Linked DNA regions of Homo sapiens: region 1 is linked to region 2. A link means that fine-mapping ties the variant in region 2 to the expression of a gene that starts in the linked region. Tissue or cell type: testis. Region 2 holds a variant in brackets; the other region holds the start of a gene. All regions are shown on one strand. Distances are from middle to middle.

Region 1 (8,144 bases), 58 kb before region 2:
CCTAGAGATTCTTTTTGCAAACAAACTGCCGCAGTTCATGCTGTGTGCATGGATGAAGGCAACACCACACTGGCCTCAATGATGAGAACAGGAACCCATTAGTCATGGCGAGATCCCATGACCAAGGCAAAAATGACCAAGTTTAAGTTGTATCTGAGGGAGGCCATCTGCTTCTGAAGTCACTTGGCATAAAACTCTATGCCCAATAGGAGAGCTTCTGAATAGTTAGTTACAAAGAGACTCTTTTAGTTAGACTCTCTCTCTCTCTTAGGAAGAGAAAATATTAGGCAGATAGAGGGTGGGGTGCTCCAGCTCAAGTGAGTAGCTGGGCCAGGTGTCCATGAAGCTGTTGGATATCCCTGTCTCAAAAACCTTGGGAGACTTAGAATGTATGCCTATTCCTCTGCACAGCTTACTCTTTGCATTAAATATTTCCCTCAAAAGTGTTATTTCTGAAACTTAATACACAGTCTACTTTTGAAACTTTATACTTGAAGTTGTTCTTTGCAGAACTCTTAGATATAATTAAAGAACTTTTTCATGCTTGCTATGGTCTGAATGCTTAGGTCCTTCCAAAATTCATGTTGACTCTTAATTCCCATTGTAGTGGTATTAAGAGGCGGGCCATTTGGGAGGTGACTAGGTCATGAGGACTTCACCATGATGAATGGTATTAGGGCCCTTATAAAAGAGGCTTGAGGGAGTTTGTCCCTTCCACCATATGAGGATGCAAAGGGAAGATGCTATATACAAAACACAGTGAGCCCTCACCAGACACCAAATCTGCAGATGACCTGATCTTGGACTTCCCAGCCTCCAGAACTGTAAGCAATACACTTCTGTTGTTTACAAATTAGCTAGTCTAAGGTATTTTGTTAGATCAGCAGGAGGGAGCATTAGAATCTACCATCCACTTAAGTCTTAAGTTTTTTTGTTTACTTATTCATCTCTACCAGGAACATTGTGCAGGAAATAATGAAGAGTAGGATCCTTTCCCCAACCAGGAGAAGTTTTTCTTCTTCATTTTAATATTTCTCCTCCTAAGGACTTTGCTTTTTAATGCCAGAACTAATCTTATTTGTAATTTACATGCCTAGCTTAAATTTACTCATTAAACACTAAAGTTGGAGTTGCTCTATAGCTTTTTATGAGCTGACCTTGGGCACTATTACCCTCTTTCAAAGGCACCATGATTTTTTCATATAACTTAATTTTCAAGAACACTTGACATGTGGAAGAGTTTAAAGCTGAGATATGAAGTGACTTCTCCAGACCTTGTTATTTAAAAATCTTTAGGCTGGGCACAGTGGCTCACACCTATAATCCCAGCACTTTGTGGGGGCCGAAGAGGGTGGATCACCTGATGTCAGGAGTTTGAGACTGGCCTGGTCAACCTGGCAAAACTCTGTATCTACTAAAAATACAAAAATTAGCTGGGCATGGTGGCACGTGCTTGTAGTCCCAGCTACTCAGGAGGCTGAGGCAGGAGAATCGCTTGAACCTGGGATGCGGCAGTTACAGTGAGCCAAGATCGCGCTATAACACTCCAGCCTGGGTGACAGACTCTGGCTCAAAAAAAAAAAAAATTAAAAAATTAAAAATAAATAAAAATCTTTAAATATTTACGGTTAACATTCACATGCAATAAAATCTTAAGTTATGCCTTATAAAGCAAAGCTACCAATTATTGAGTGCTATGTGCCAAGCATGATGTGAAATGCTTTGCTTGTCCTCTCTCATTTAATTCCCACAGCAAGCTTTTGAGATAGATAGTATTATTTTAATAGATCTTGTCTGGGTACAGGAAGTACCAAGGTGCTTTTCTTAGTAGTGGGCAACATCAAGTTACTGGAGATGGAAAGCCCTGTTTTTGAACCCTGGTTCTGGTACTTACCATATGTTCTGGTCATGTCCCTTACCTTCAACAAGGTGAGAACCTGGGCTTCAACTTCCTCCTCTGTTATTTTTATTTGAGGTGGGTCCTCGCGCCAACAGAACAAGCTCCCTACCTATCATTTCACTATTATAGTTTCAACCCAGTGTGCGCATCCAAACTTTTTTTTTTTTTTTTGAGACAGAGTTTCTTGTCGCCCAGGCTGGAGTGCAACCTCCGCCTCCTGGGTTCAAGCAATTCTCCTGCCTCAGCTTCCTGAGTAGCTGGGTTTACAGGTGGCTGCCAGCACACCTGGCTAATTTTTGTATTTCTAGTTGAGATGGGGTTTCACCATGTTGGCCAGGCTGGTCTCAAAACTCCTGACCTCAGGTGATCCCCCTGCCTCGGCCTCCCAAAGTGCTGGGATTACAAGCGTGAGCCACCATGCCTGGCCCAAAGCATATCCTTTTGAAAGGCAAAAACCATGAGGCAAGTTCTTAGGTTACATCCTTATCAGTTAATACTTCAATTATCAGTTAATGCTTTACTAAGGAATACTTGATAATCAGCTGAGAACAAGAACAGAATATGGACTGGGCTACTAGAGATGAAAAGATCCTAGGGTCTGCTGGAGGACCAGCGAAGTTCAGATGGGAAAGTGCCCAGTGGAAAGACTTCAGCTAAGTACATTTGTCTAGACTCTGCCCAGCTCATGATATGTCTTTGAAGCTGGTGTGAAGGCAAGGAAAAATGTTCAGTGTGTAACACATAGTCCCATCTGGCTGAAGTATGAGTGAAGAAGTGATGAAGGGGAAAAACCAAGAAAGGAAACTGTGGGGGAGGGCACAGGGAAAGTCATAGTGACGAGTTTGGACTTCATTCCACAGGCGGTGAGGAACCTTTCAGGGCTTTTTAAGCAGGGGGCCAGCAACATTAGATGTAGGCTGCTTATAGGATGGGGGAAATGGTGAAGATAGGGTGTGGAGGACAGGCGCCCAGGGTGTGACCAGGAGGCCCTCAGAATAATCCATGGAGCCCAAAACTAGGTCATGGAGCCCAAAACTAGAGTGATAAGAATAGAAAGAAGAATGTGACGCTGCCAAGGACTTGGCACCAACTGAATGGGGGGAAGGGGAGGTGTTGAGAAGACGGTCAAACCACAGACACCTAGGGATTCCGGGCACTGATGAAAGTTCCAAGAATTTCTATTCTTCCTTTACCTTACTCTCCACTCAATCAAAAATACCCTAACTTGACATCAGTTGACAAGTTGAGAGCCTAAATATGCAAAGTAAATAGGGGAGTCATCTTTGCCCATGAGAACCACAGACAGACATCAACCCGGCAAAGCCGGGCAAGGTGGCTCATGCCTGTAATCCCAGCACTTTCGGAGGCCCAGGCGGGCGGATCACTTGAGGTCAGGAGTTCGAGACCAGCCTGGCCAACATGGAGAAACCCCGTCTCTACTTAAAAAAAAAAAAAAAATACAAAAACTAGCCGGGTGTGGTGGCGCATGCCTGTAATCCCAGCTACTCGGACGGCTGAAGCATGAAAATCGCTTGAGCCCCGGAGGCAGAGGTTGCAGTGAGCCAAGATCGTGCCACTGCACTGTCCAGCCTGAGCTACAGAGCAAGACTCTGTCTAAAAAAAAAAAAAAGAAAGAAAGAAAAAAAAGAAAAGAAAAGAAAAGAAAAAGAAAGAAATCAACCTGGCACAGAGAAGGTGAGGGTAGTAGCGGTTCTGGTGCCCTGGCTCCAAAGCTGTAGGGCCTGGTCTAGGCCTCTAAGCACCTCTCTCCTTGGAAAGGGGGTGAAGACGACTGATTACGAAGAGGCCTGGGCTCTAATGTCGGTTCTGCCACTGACTGGGTGCCTGGCTTCATCGCTTATTTCTTCTTTTTCGTGTTGGACCAGAGCATTCCAGATGTCCTCTGCAGAGGTCGAACTCCAGGACTGCAGTATCTTTTCCTCTTCGCATGTACCGCTTTTCACATTCCCTGATTCCATTAAAAATATTTTCCTCTCTCGTTTTCTAATCTCATTTTTTATGAAGCACAGCACCCTTTCAGGGAAGGGAGCAGAGGCCTGGATATCTGGGTCTGGGCTTGGGCACCCAGACAAAGCCAACCGCCTCCTCCTTGGGCATCTCTTCTCTGCCCACCAGCGTGGCTCTGACTCCCCGACTGCAGCCCGCCTCGTTCCCACGGCAACCGGCGGGCGCCCACGACTGGCTTGGGACCCCGGGGCCACAGCCCCGCCCCGCCCCGCCCCGTGCTCTCGGCGGCTGCACCTGGTCGCGCGGGGGCGGGGAGGCGCGGTTGCTAGGGAAACCGGAGGACGCCCGGTAGCCGCCCCCACCGCCTCCGCCCCAGGCAAGGCCGGCCGGCGCCGCGGAAAGCAGCCTCGGGGAAGGAGGAGGAAGAGGGGCAGGTGTAGGGAGTGAAGAAGCAAAAAGAGGAGGAGGAAGAGGAGCTCAGGGCCGTCCCCGCGCAATTAATGGGCGGCTCCTGCGCCCTGGACCGGCCCGCCCGCCCAGCCCCTCGACCCCTGTAGCCCCGGCAGGGGAGGAAGGGCAGACCCACAGGTAACGGCCCCCTCGCCCCCGCCGCTCCGCTCCAGTTCTCCCAGGATGGGGGACAACCTTCCCTTTCGACTTACAAGATTCTGGAGGGAAACCGGGCCTGACATCCGGTGGCCTGGCCGTCCCCTCCCCTCGGCTGACCCCAGCCCCAGCATTTTTCTGTCTCAGAGGGACAGGTTTGGGGGAGACCGTGAACCTTTGCTCACTGGCACCCACATTCTTTCCTGCAGACGCCACTGGTCAGAAAAGGTATACACAGACCATGGCCCACTGGGCTTCTGAATGCGAAATGGTCGATATTGATTTTGTTTATTTTTGAGAAGGAGTCTCGCTCTGTCTCCCAGGTTGGAGTGCAGCGGTGCAGTCAGGGCTCACTGCAGCCTCGACCTCCCAGGCTCAAGCGATCCTCCCGCCTCAGCCTCCCGGTGGTAGCTGGGACCACAGGCCAACACCATGTCTGGCTAATGTTTTAAATTATTTGTAAAGAAGGGGTCTCGTTATGTTTCTCTGGCTGGATATTGTTATTAATGATGGCACTGAATTGCTTGTCAAACCTGTGACGTTTCCTCCCCCAGAGTTTCCCAATTACACGTTGAGTTTCTCCTCTCTTCTGGGCTTGATGGTCGAAATGTGACCACCTATCTCTCCTAGTTTCACAGTAAAATGAAGAGTCACCGCCAAACACAAGTCTGTTCCCCACCCTCCACCCCGCCCCCAACTCTTAAGCCAAATTGGCTGGAAGAGTTGAAAGATCTCCTTACCTTTCCCAACCAATTCCCCCTTTTTCTCTGCAGTCACAGTATTCTTAAATTGGGCCCAAATCGTAAACTTTGTTGCTTATACTCAAGACATGTTTATAAGCTAAGACTTTAAAATGCAAAGTTTTTTTTAGAGCTAAGATTTAAACAAATCCTATAATGTCTGACATTACAAATTAATCAATTGGGGAAAAGGTTGAATAAGGTCTCCTGAAATCCTTCTCCAATCACCTAATTGTGGAAAGGGAGTAATTTTCGAGCCTGATTGTCCGGTATTAACAATAGCCATTTAGATTTTATTTCAAAGCAACCTTCCGTCTAAGGAGGAGGTTAGATTGTTTACATTTCCTTTATTGCTTAACAGCATATTAACTTTAGTGATGTCTTTCTCTTATGAGAACATAGTAAGAAACCAATAAGACTTTGATTGTTATTAAGAACAGGCTCCTTCAAATCAGTTCTTTTGACAAATGTGGTCATAAAACAGAGGGATGGTACGTATGCATGACTTTTAGAGCACTGAAAAACATTCTGCAATCAGATTCTGTTCCCCTCAGTCAGGAAAACTTGGTTGGAATTCACTGGAAAATTACACTAGAGAAGAACGTGTATGTCACAAAGTTCTTAGAATATTCCCCCATTAAAATTTCACAGATATGTAGAATTTTGAGGCCAAGAAGAATTACTCGCTCTTGCTTTCAGCAAGGCAGGACCCCCTCCTTCCTTCTCCACCTGCCTCCAACTCCCTCCTCCTTTCTCTCTCCCTACTTAATATGGCTTCTTATGTTGATTTCTAAAGCACAGATTTGGCACAAGACATTATCACCAGAAAGACTTAAAACAGAAGTGTGCATAACCATGAGTGGGTTTTAAATTAAGAAGCAGTTCAAAGGTGAGCGATAGAAGAGAATACAGAGTGCTATTTTAGAAACATGCGCCTTGCTCACATTTTATTATCACCCCCACCCCAACCCTCTGTGTTTGCTGGGGAAAAATTCTTGGCTTCAAGTGGCCATCTGGTTGAGTAGGCCCACAAAGCTGAGATCCATGAATTAAGCATTATCTCATGTAGTTTTATTTCCATACTGTTATTTCTGTTTCTTGTTCATCCTGGTCAGTTTTTCAAACTGACTGAGTGCAGTATGAACTTCAAGCAAACACAGAGAATGTTTGCTTATACTGAGGTAACCCACCATCTTCTTGGTCTGACACTAATACCGTTTTCTTGGTTCCCGTAATATTTGTTTAATCTCATGAAGACTTGATGTATTTAAATAAAAAATTACATGTGGCACCACGATGTTTCTAAATATTGTAAAATACAATGTAATAGAGAGTTTATGGGAAGGAAGAGAGACTTTTGTAGGCAATTTTATTTTTATTATTTTATTATTATTATTATTATTTTTTTTTATTTTTGAGGGGATGGAGTCTCTCTCTGGAGTGCAGTGGTGCGATCTTGGCTCACTGCAACCTCCGCCTTCCAGGTTCAAGTGATTCTTCTGTCTCAGCCTCCCAAGTAGCTGGGACTACAGGAGTGCACCACCACGCCCAGCAAATTTTTGTATTTTTAGTAAAGATGGGGTTTTGCCACGTTGGCCAGGCCGATCTCGAACTCCTGACCTCAAGTGATCCACCTGCCTTGGCCTCTGTAAGTGCTGGGATTACAGGCATTTTAAAGTCCTTTATTTGGTAGGTGATTGTGAAGTCAGAGGTAACTTAGCAAGTAATTCAAAGGGTGCTACTTCCTATTTAGACAAAGTTATTTCATGCCTCTTGACTTAGAAGCCTCCTTAAATTAACCCTGCTCTAAAGCCGTGATAGATTAACCGGCTTTCTATATTAACTTTGGCAACCAAAATGTATCATCCAAGTGGACTCTGGGATGCTCCCCTTTAGTGACCATTAACATATTTTTATTATGAGTCTTTATGGTCTCTGCCTGAATAAGATTCAGACAGGCTTCTCTTTCCCACAGTAGCAGCAGGAGCTTATCCTTCTGCCTGTTTTAACACCATCGTTTTCTGAAAAGAGTGCAAAGGTAACTTCATTCTATGCAGGTACACATTCAGATGAAAAGCTAAAAGTGATCTTTTAAAACATAGTCCCATAAGTGATTATTAAAATGCTTAGAGACAAAATGTATGTTTTGTGTGTAGACTGGAAATACACATTGGATTGTAGTTTCAGATTCTGACTGTCAAAAGACCAACTTTCCATACTCCAGAGAAAATAGCCCCCAAGAGACGAGCACAAGTTTTCCCCATTGTTCAGGGCCAGATGATAAACCATGTGAGATTTCATAACTACCAGACCAGACGCTGGGTCACCATGAGTCCGGGGCGGCCTGACTCTGCCAATATCTGCACAACTGAATAAACAGGAGGAGCGAGGGAATGCCGCAGAACGTATACACCTGAAGGTAGAGATGTCGCCTGTCCCATCCTGATGTTTCCCCAGAGCCTAGCAGCCCTTGTCACACACAGCAGTTGTAAAAAATATGTGTGTGTGTGTGTGTGTAGAAATAAATGAAAGAGCTTCAGTAGACAACAAACAGGAATAGTGTGGGGGCTTTGATGACCCCATAGATGAGGGGTCGTTATTAACAGTGCCATTTTATCCCTTTGTGAGCTTAGATATCTTGGCCATAAATTTGGGCCATGCCAGTCAAAGCCAAACTTCTTGAAAGCATGATCTCCACGCCTTTGCCTCCCATTTACGCAACCTTCTGCAGCCCTCCCAGCCCCGTCACTCCAATGAATGCTCTCACCAAGGTTATTAATAGCCTCCTTTTTGAAACCCTCTCTTCTGGGCATCTCTGAAACGGCACCCACCTGGTTTCTTCCTGCCTCTCTGGCTTTTTCTTTTTTTTCCGCAGAGTTTCTCTTCAGCGGCTTGTTCTCTAAATATTCGTGTTCTTCACGAGGTTTTGT
Region 2 (8,185 bases):
GAGGCCAAGGCAAGCGGATCACCTGAGGTTGGGAGTTAGAAACCAGCCTGGCCAACATGGTGAAACCCTGTCTCTACTAAAAATACAAAAATTAGCTGAGTGTGGTGGCATATGCCTGTAATCCCAGCTACTTGGGAAGCTGAGGTACGAGAATCGCTTGAACCCGGGAGGAGGAGGTTGCAGTGAGCCGAGATTGTGTCACTGCACTCCAGCCTGGGCGACAGAGTGAAACCATGTCTCGACAACAACAACAAAAAAAGTGGTTATAATTTGATTATTAAAAATTTTAACGATTTGATCATCAGTGAAGTCATCCGTTTATCCAGTACCTATGGGGATGTTAGCAAATACATCCAACTGTCCCCCACGTCCCAGGGTGTATGATACCAGGGCGAACTGGTGTACTCATCCACTGCTCATTCATTCAGCACTTCATTTATACGTATTTACCTGCCGGGTAATGGGGAACCAGAACACAAAACACACGGGGCCTGCCCTCCAGGGCTCCCAGCCTGGTGGGTGAGCAGGATTCCAATAAGGGCAGATAGTGCAAGGCGCACCCTGACCAAGGTAAGTTCTAAGAGCTTGTGGGCAGGGCCAGGTGGAGTGAAAATCCTGAAGGACAGGGGTTTAACCAGGTGAAGAGGGCAAGAAAGATGTGCCTGGCAGCAGGTACTGAGTGTGCAAAGGAACGGAGGAGAGGGAGCAAGGAAGACAGGGAGAGACACATATCGAGGAGCTACAGATAATCTAGGGCCTTGTGCTCCAAGTGTCCCCAGGCAAGTAGCAGAAACCATCATCTGAGAGCTTCTTAGAAATGCAGAACCTCAGGCCCCAGTCCAGACTGACTGGCTCAGAACCTGCATTGAAGAAGATCTCAGGGATATTCCTATGTACATTTGAGTTTCAGAAGTTGTGGTTTAGGGCCAGGCGTGGTGGCTCACGCCTGTAATCCCAGCGCTTTGGGAGGCTAAGGTGGGTGGATCACTTGAGGTCAGGAGTTCAAGACCAGCCTGGTCAACATGATGAAACCCCATCTCTACTAAAAATACAAAAATTAGCCAGATGTAGTGGTGCGCACCTGTAATCTCATCTACTCGGGAGACTGAGGCAGGAGAATCGCTTGAACCCAGAAGGCAGAGGTTGCAGTGAGCTGAGATCACGTGACTGCACTCCACACTCCAGCCTGGGCGACAGAGCAAGGCTCCATCTCAAAAAGAGAGAGAGAGAGAGAGAAGCTCTGGTTTCTGGTTTAGGGTCAGGCTACAAATTAGGAAATATAAAGTTGAGGCCCCACCGGTAGGCAAGGATCAGGCCTCCAAGGGCCTTAAATGTCATGCTGGAGGCGACGGGGCATCAGTCCTGGAAGGGCTCTGCATAGGAAAGTGATGCAATCAGATTGGATTTTTAAAAGCTGACTCTGACTGCAGCATGGAGAAGGGCCAGCTGAGAGTGTGAGGGTGGCCAGACACAGCCAAGAGACCAGACAAGTAGCAGTTGCAGGGGATGGGGGAGAAATGAGAAGGGCTTGAGCGGGAGCAAAAGCAAAAGGAAGAGGGCCAGATGCAGTGGTTCACACCTGTAAGGAATCCTAGCACTTTGGGAGGCTGAGATGGGAGGATTGCTTGAGGCCAGGAGTTCAAGACCAGTCTGGTCAACATAGCAAGACCCCATCTCTATTAAAAAAAAAAAAAGCAGAGGGAATAGGAAGAGGGAGTGGGCTTGAGGGCCATTTAAGAAGTAAAGCTGGCAGAACTTGGTGACTTGGATGTAGGGATAAGGAAGAAAGAGGAATCAAAGAGAACTCAGGAATCTGGCCCAGGAAACTAGGTCAGTGGAGGTTGCCTCTGCCAAGGCTGAGGAAGCAAGGAGAGGGTGGGTCCCCTTTTGCGGTGTTGCCTTTGAGCTGCAGGCAGGGCAGCCAGGTGGCAATGCCAGGAAGCACCTGGGGACCCAGGTCTCCTGCCCAACAGAGCACTCCCCTTCCTCCCAGAGCACTTGCTGGTAGGACCCAAGGGCCTGCAGTGAGTAAGAGGTGGCTGAAATGGCAAGAATGTCTCCCCTGAGTGGATGGAGTAAGAAGAGAGATGTTGGGGGGACTTTGGGAGATAACAACTGTAAAGAGAAGAATGAGTGAAGACAGCTAGAGAGAGAAAAATGATCCCGAGAAATAGGAGCCACTCCAGAGGCCATTTAGGAAGAAAGAAGTGGATAATATTTACTCGAATCCTCTGTAGCATGGCACTAAGGACTGAGACCCCTCCACGATAGGTAATGGTTTTCTTTTCTTCTTTTTTTTTTTTTCTTTTTTGAGATGGAGTCTTGCTCTGTCACCCAGGCTGGAGTGCAATAGCCCGATCGCGGCTCACTGAAACCTCTGCCTCCCAGGTTCAAGCGATTCTCCTGCCTCAGCCTCCCAAATAGCTGAGATTACAGGCATGCGCCACCATGCCCGGCTAATTTTGTATTTTTAGTAGAGATGGGGTTTCTCCCTGTTGGCCAGGCTGGTATCGAACTCCTGACCTCAAGTAATCCGCCTGCTTCGGTCTCCCAAAGTGCTGGGATTACAGGCGTGAGCCACCACGCCCAGCCTTAGGTGATAGTTTTCAACTGGATGGCTACAACTGTGGATTTTAGACTTGGAACTGATTTTAGCTGCAGCATCTCCCAAACTTTTTTGACAATAAAAATCACCAGGGAGGTTCTTCATAAAAATAAAAATTCCTGCTTCCTGTCCCTGACCCACAGCATCAGAATCTCCAGTAAAGGGGCCTGCGAAACTATTTTTGAACAAGAACAACAGGTGATTCTCATCACCAGGGTTTGGGCAGCTGTCTCAGATCCTTGCTTTTCCAAACATTAACATTCATGAGAAACACCTGGGGCTCTTGAGCAACTACAGATTCTGATTCAGAAGGTCTGGGTGGGCTGAGATCCTGCATTGCTAAGAAGTCCCAGGTGACATCGATGTGGCTGGTCTGTGAACCACCTTTGAAGGAGCAAGGCTAGAAAAAACACCCGTCTCGTTTTGCAGGTGAGGAAACAGGTTCCGGGCAGGTAAGCCGTCGATTCAAGGTGACCCAGCTGGTTAGTGGCAAAGCTGAGATTTGTCAGGCGTGAGGGGGTAGCTCTGACTCATGACTCCATCAGGCACCCGTATTCTGCCTCCAGCGAGGTTAGCAGTTTGAGCGTGAGGTTAGTGAACAGATCATCAGCTTCAACGAGACATCTCTCTTGTTTACCTGCTTTTCACCCAGCTTGATTTTTCTCCCTTCGCATGATCCCGCCGGGATCTCTCTCCTTTCTTTCTCTTTTTCCCAAGCTTCCCCTCCGCAGCAGAAAGGCCAGATCAGGGCATGACTACAGCCTGCTAGCGGGGGCAGCTGGAGGATTGAGGGAGAGAGCCTTACCCAAGTGAGACCCTGCGGGGCGCCATCTGTTGCTACCAGCACAGCTCATTAAGCTGGCAGTGGGAGACGAGAAAGGCCCCAGAGCTTCCACACGGCAGCCTCAGGACATTCTCCGGGATCTTACGGGGAAAAGAACTTCCCGACATCTGTCAGGGACGCTGGAGACTGTTGGCTGGAACAGGGTGTGATGCTGGTGCCGCTTCCCTTGGTTAACTCCGCAGTGACGCTGAGATCTAGGCCAGGTGCCTCCTGGGCAGGAGCCAGGCCTGCTGCTCCTATGACATTGGAGAACAATTTTTGAGTTTGGATTCATTCGCAGACGTTTCTATGTCCTTCCCCCCACCGCCAGTGCTGCTTCCTGACTGCTCTTTTTCTTTTGTGCAGGTGGCAGCAGCAAGCACCCCCTGTTCTGTGTTGAATACACCCCTTACTGCTCCGTCTT[T/C]GCTTTCTCCCCTGTCCTGCAGCCCAATACCAATTACTGCTGCCTCCTCCTGCCACTAGTGCCACCTGCCTCCCCAGTGGCCCAGGAACCTCCTGACTGTCCTCTCCCTCTGGTTACCGTTCCCTCCTTCACAAGCACCGCTTCCACCTCCCCGGACCCCGTGCCCGAGTCCCCCGCCGTGCTGTGCTACTTCCCCATCTCCTGCCCCACTCCGGCTGAGACCCCTGTGCTGTGCCTTCAGGGCCCCAGAAGGCCCAGTAGGATTTACCTCATGTGGTAAGTCACTCTTGCAAGGCACACAGCACAGCGCAGTCGGGGAGAGGGGACTTCGGGCTTCCGGAAGGCAGGTGGACAGGAGAGGGGCCAGAGGCCACACCAAGAACAATACCAGGCGGCGTGGTGTTCGGGGGAGCAGGAAGATGGGACAGCGTGGCCACTGCACTGGGGCTGCACCTTCTAGCGCCAAAGGAGCGAGCGACCAATAAAATCCCATCCTCTCTGGAGACTCATTTGATTTCTTACCTCCTGTAGCTGGCACGCTGTGCAATGTCACCCCCAGAAACCAAACAGGCTCTCCTAATGCGTCTGATCATACCCTTGGCTATGTGAATGTGCACACGCCGAGGCCGCCCTGAGCGGTGGCACCGGGGGCAGGCCGTTCTGAAGGCACACACTGGAACCAAAACCCATTCAGAACCACTCGGAGGAGGGACAAATGAAAAGGCTCAGCCGATGTTTACATTCCCTTTCCTGCCTACTTATTAGGCATCACATTTCCTAAAATCAAAAATCCCACCCCTGAGTTCCAAAATAAAACATATTTATGGTACATAATTAAGCTTTAATTAAGATCTCCTCTGGGTACATGAGACAACACACATTTCTCGCACACTCAAATAGGCAAATAGACGCGACCTATTATTTGTGACTGCACAGAAAGCTGCCTATTACCCCAAGGCAACATTGGCTCCTGCGATTAAGCTGTAATTCTTCCCAGGATCCAAAGAAAGCACACTTTTTTTTTCAAAGAGTTGTCTCTCCATTGGGATCTTGGCACCTCCTAGGCACCAGAGATCCCAGTCAAAGTAATGTGGGGCGGGATAAGGGTTCCGGAACTGTATTTCCCTTTTATGCTTCCTTTTTGACTTTGTCTATAAAGAACTATCTGTGGATGACAAGTGTTGGGAAGAGCCGAACGTGAACAGCTGAATGGACTTGGTTCTCACTTGTCAGGGTCTTGTACAAATATAAGATTTCTACCTTTTTTTTCCCTTTCCTGGTCAAATTAAGAAGTCTTCAGTCGACAATCACAGTTTCCCAACATTGTCAAGAGAACAGAGGCAGATGCCTTTAATCTAAACAGCTGTTTGGTTTCTTTAAAACTGGAGGCATCACCTTTCTCAGATCCTGGAAGTAGGGGGTCTGTATGTTGTCCAAAGCAAACCAAAGTCTTCCCAAAATTCATTGATAAACAGGATATTGAGTTACCTGGCAGTGAAACTCCTGAACACAAACCCCTTCCTTTTCTGTAAGGCAAAGGGCTTGTCCTGCTACCTGAAAAGGAAGGTAATTTCATCGTCCAGGGTAAATAGGACTTGGTCTTCCTGCAGATTATGAATCCATGGACATGGTAAAGACCCATCCTAGCCCCCAAAGGTCTGAAATTTGATTCACTTTTCATGCAAGTGAAGTGATGGGAACTTGGTATACAAATTGAGGGTTCGAAACTCTTTTTCTAGACAATGTCGTGCTCTTGCCCAGGCTGGAGTGCAGTGGTGCAAACACAGCTCACTGCAGCCTCGACCTCCTGGGGCTCAAATGGTCCTCTTGCCTCAGCCTCCCATGTAGCCAGGACCACAGGTATGTGCCAGCACACCCAGCTAATATTTTTTATTTCTTTTTTTGTAGAGACAGGAGTCTCACTTTGTTGCCCAGGCTGGTCTCAAACTCCTGGGCTCAAGTGATCTTCCTGCCTCGGCCTCCCAAAGTGTTAGGATTACAGACATGAGCCACCATGCCTGGCTGAATGTTAGAATCTCTTTTTTGTTTGTTTGTTTGTTTGTTTGTTTGTTTTTGAGATGGAGCCTTGCACTGTCGCCCGGCCTGGAGGCTGGAGTGCAGTGGTGTGATCTCGGCTCACTGCAACCTCCGCCTCCCAGGTTCAAGTGATTCTCCTGCCTCAGCCTCCGTAGTAGCTGGGATTACAGGTGCGTGCCACCATGCCCAACTAATATTTTGTATTTTTAGTAGAGACGGGGTTTCACTATTTTGTCCAGGCTGGGCTTGAACTCCTGACCTCGTGATCCACCCACCTTGGCCTCCTAAAGTGCTGGGATTACAGGCGTGAGCCACCGTGCCTGGACCTAGAAACTCTTAAACCCATGTACACACAAACTGTGCAATCTAGGTCACCTCATTTGTGACTGCACTTACAGACAGAGAAGAGAAAATATTTTGCAAGAGTTTTGTTTTCCATGGAACCAAAAGGGTATCACAGGGAAGAAGTCAGCAGTGCAGCCAAATTAGATTATAATAATCTTTAAGGTCATGAGGCAACATCTTGTTCATCTTTGTGAACCCTCAAATTATAGCATAGCAAAGGCACACAGGTATTTGTTGAACAAATCATAATATAAAGAGTTGCTATTTGCCTTTTGGATTTTATAAAAGAAGGATTGAGGGAGAGAATCAACAAGAACTACACCGGAATGAAGGCTATTGAATAAGTTATTGCCAACCTGTGAAGTCTGCATAACAATGAGTTTCTGGTCAAATTCAGTTGTCTCATGGGAATGACTTCAGATTTCCCATTATTATTCTCAGTAGTAGTGGTAGTATTCTTTACAGTAGAAGAAGCAGCTACCATTATTAGCACCTAGCATGAACCAGTTAGGCCATTTATGTACATTTTTGCTAAACTTCACAGTAACAAGATGGACCATTTTACAGTTGCAGAAACTGAGGTTAAAGTTGCCAAAGGTCAGAGGATCCTGCCTACACTAATAGCAGCGATTTCTTCACTGCCAGGCCTAGTACAACAATCTCCAGTTGTTCAGCTTTATTATTTTAGTTTGCTGAGAACTTGATTAGAGGACACATGGTAATGGTTTTGGCAATCATTTAAGAGATCTGATGCTTTGAAGAAAGCAGTTTTTTTGAACAAGAAAACAAATTAAATAACCTTTTATCTTAAGCCATCTTGGGCGTTCTGCACAACAAAAAAATGTGTTCTAGTTTTGAAGTTCCCCTGTAGTTGGGCTGAATGCATCTTCTCAAGCCTCACAAATCATACTAATATTTGTCCTGCACGACAAGGCAATTAATACTTGTCCTGCACAGCAGTATGAGGCAACGTGTAGACTGGCTGAGAGACGATCCTCATTCTTAAGGAGCGTGCAGGCTAGTTGGAGAGAAAAGACATACTCATTAAGCAATTTTAGAATATTTAAACACTAAAGGCCATTTTTTAAAAACGCTGAAAGTAAGGGTTTTTTCCAAAGCAGAGTCAGAGCCGACTTGGTGGAATAAACCGGAAACAGACCTCGGAGGACCTTCTGGCTGGTGCAGTCTGGGGAAGAAAGGTCCCATGAGCAGAAGCATCCCTCCCTGTGAAGGTGAATGCAGTGGCGGGGCTCAGTGGCCTCTGGGCAGTGTGAAGTTCTGCTGCCTGGGGTGCGTGGGAACTTTGAATATTCTGCTGGGATTCCTGCTGGAAATCAAAGTGAAATTCTTATCCTCAGGACCTTGGGGCCAGGTCCTGACCTTCTAGACTTGGCCTGAGCCCCACGCCTGCCCCTTCCCTGGCCCTTCTTCTGTTTCTTCCTCTTCTCTCCATGAGTTGGAAAGCAGGAGGCAGGACTTCTGAGAACTGAGGGGGTCTGAGGTCTCAGGTGATAAGGGAGAAGCTTCTATGTTCAAGGAATGCAACTTTTGGTAGTGGGAAAATGCTTCCCTCCTTCCCTCAGTGATGGATCCCTTAGTGTAAAACACCTGATCCCTCTCTCTCTCTCTGTCTTTCTGTCTCTCACTCTCTCACCTTCCTCCTCTCACCCCCTTTTTGATCAGCAAAATCATGTCTAATCAACATCCTACGCCATCCCAAGACTATCTTCTCATTTTCCAGAGAACTTTCACTCTCTCCTTTCACACCTACAACTTCTCTGGGCTCCACCAACTTGCCCCAAGTTGCTCCGACACCACCAGCAGCTTCCCTCTTCTAGTAAGTTCCCTGCGGGGCATGATCCTCTCTGTCTTGGCCTGCAGGACCCACTGCCATGCCCTCCTGGGGCCCGTCAGAAGTAAGTAGACCTAGTCATTGTATTAAATTAGGTTT

Alleles and levels. Positions count from the first base shown, and alleles are read on the strand shown. Sizes are in standard deviations (SD) of each study's normalised expression.
As copies of T replace C in region 2, the expression in testis of the gene that starts at base 4,219 in region 1 goes down (small effect, 0.21 SD a copy in GTEx).

The links. PIP is the estimated chance that this variant, and not a neighbour inherited with it, causes the effect.
Region 1: it holds the start of MARCHF10, and the variant in region 2 is fine-mapped to the expression of MARCHF10 in testis (GTEx, PIP 0.99).

What each region holds. Positions count from the first base shown.
Region 1 is chr17:62,804,389-62,812,532 of GRCh38, reverse strand. It overlaps MARCHF10 (membrane associated ring-CH-type finger 10), which reads left to right and starts at 4,219. Exons shown (of 11, transcript NM_152598.4): 1 at 4,219-4,456. It overlaps MARCHF10-DT (MARCHF10 divergent transcript), which reads right to left and starts at 4,031. Exons shown (of 2, transcript NR_135634.1): 1 at 3,582-4,031. RefSeq lists a silencer at 4,181-4,330.
Region 2 is chr17:62,746,146-62,754,330 of GRCh38, reverse strand. The region is part of intron 4 of MARCHF10 (membrane associated ring-CH-type finger 10); the gene reads left to right. Among named protein-coding and RNA genes, the nearest start is that of MARCHF10-AS1, 44 kb to the right of the region's middle. RefSeq lists enhancers at 3,320-3,928, 3,929-4,538. The variant T/C (reference allele first, on the strand shown) is at 3,853.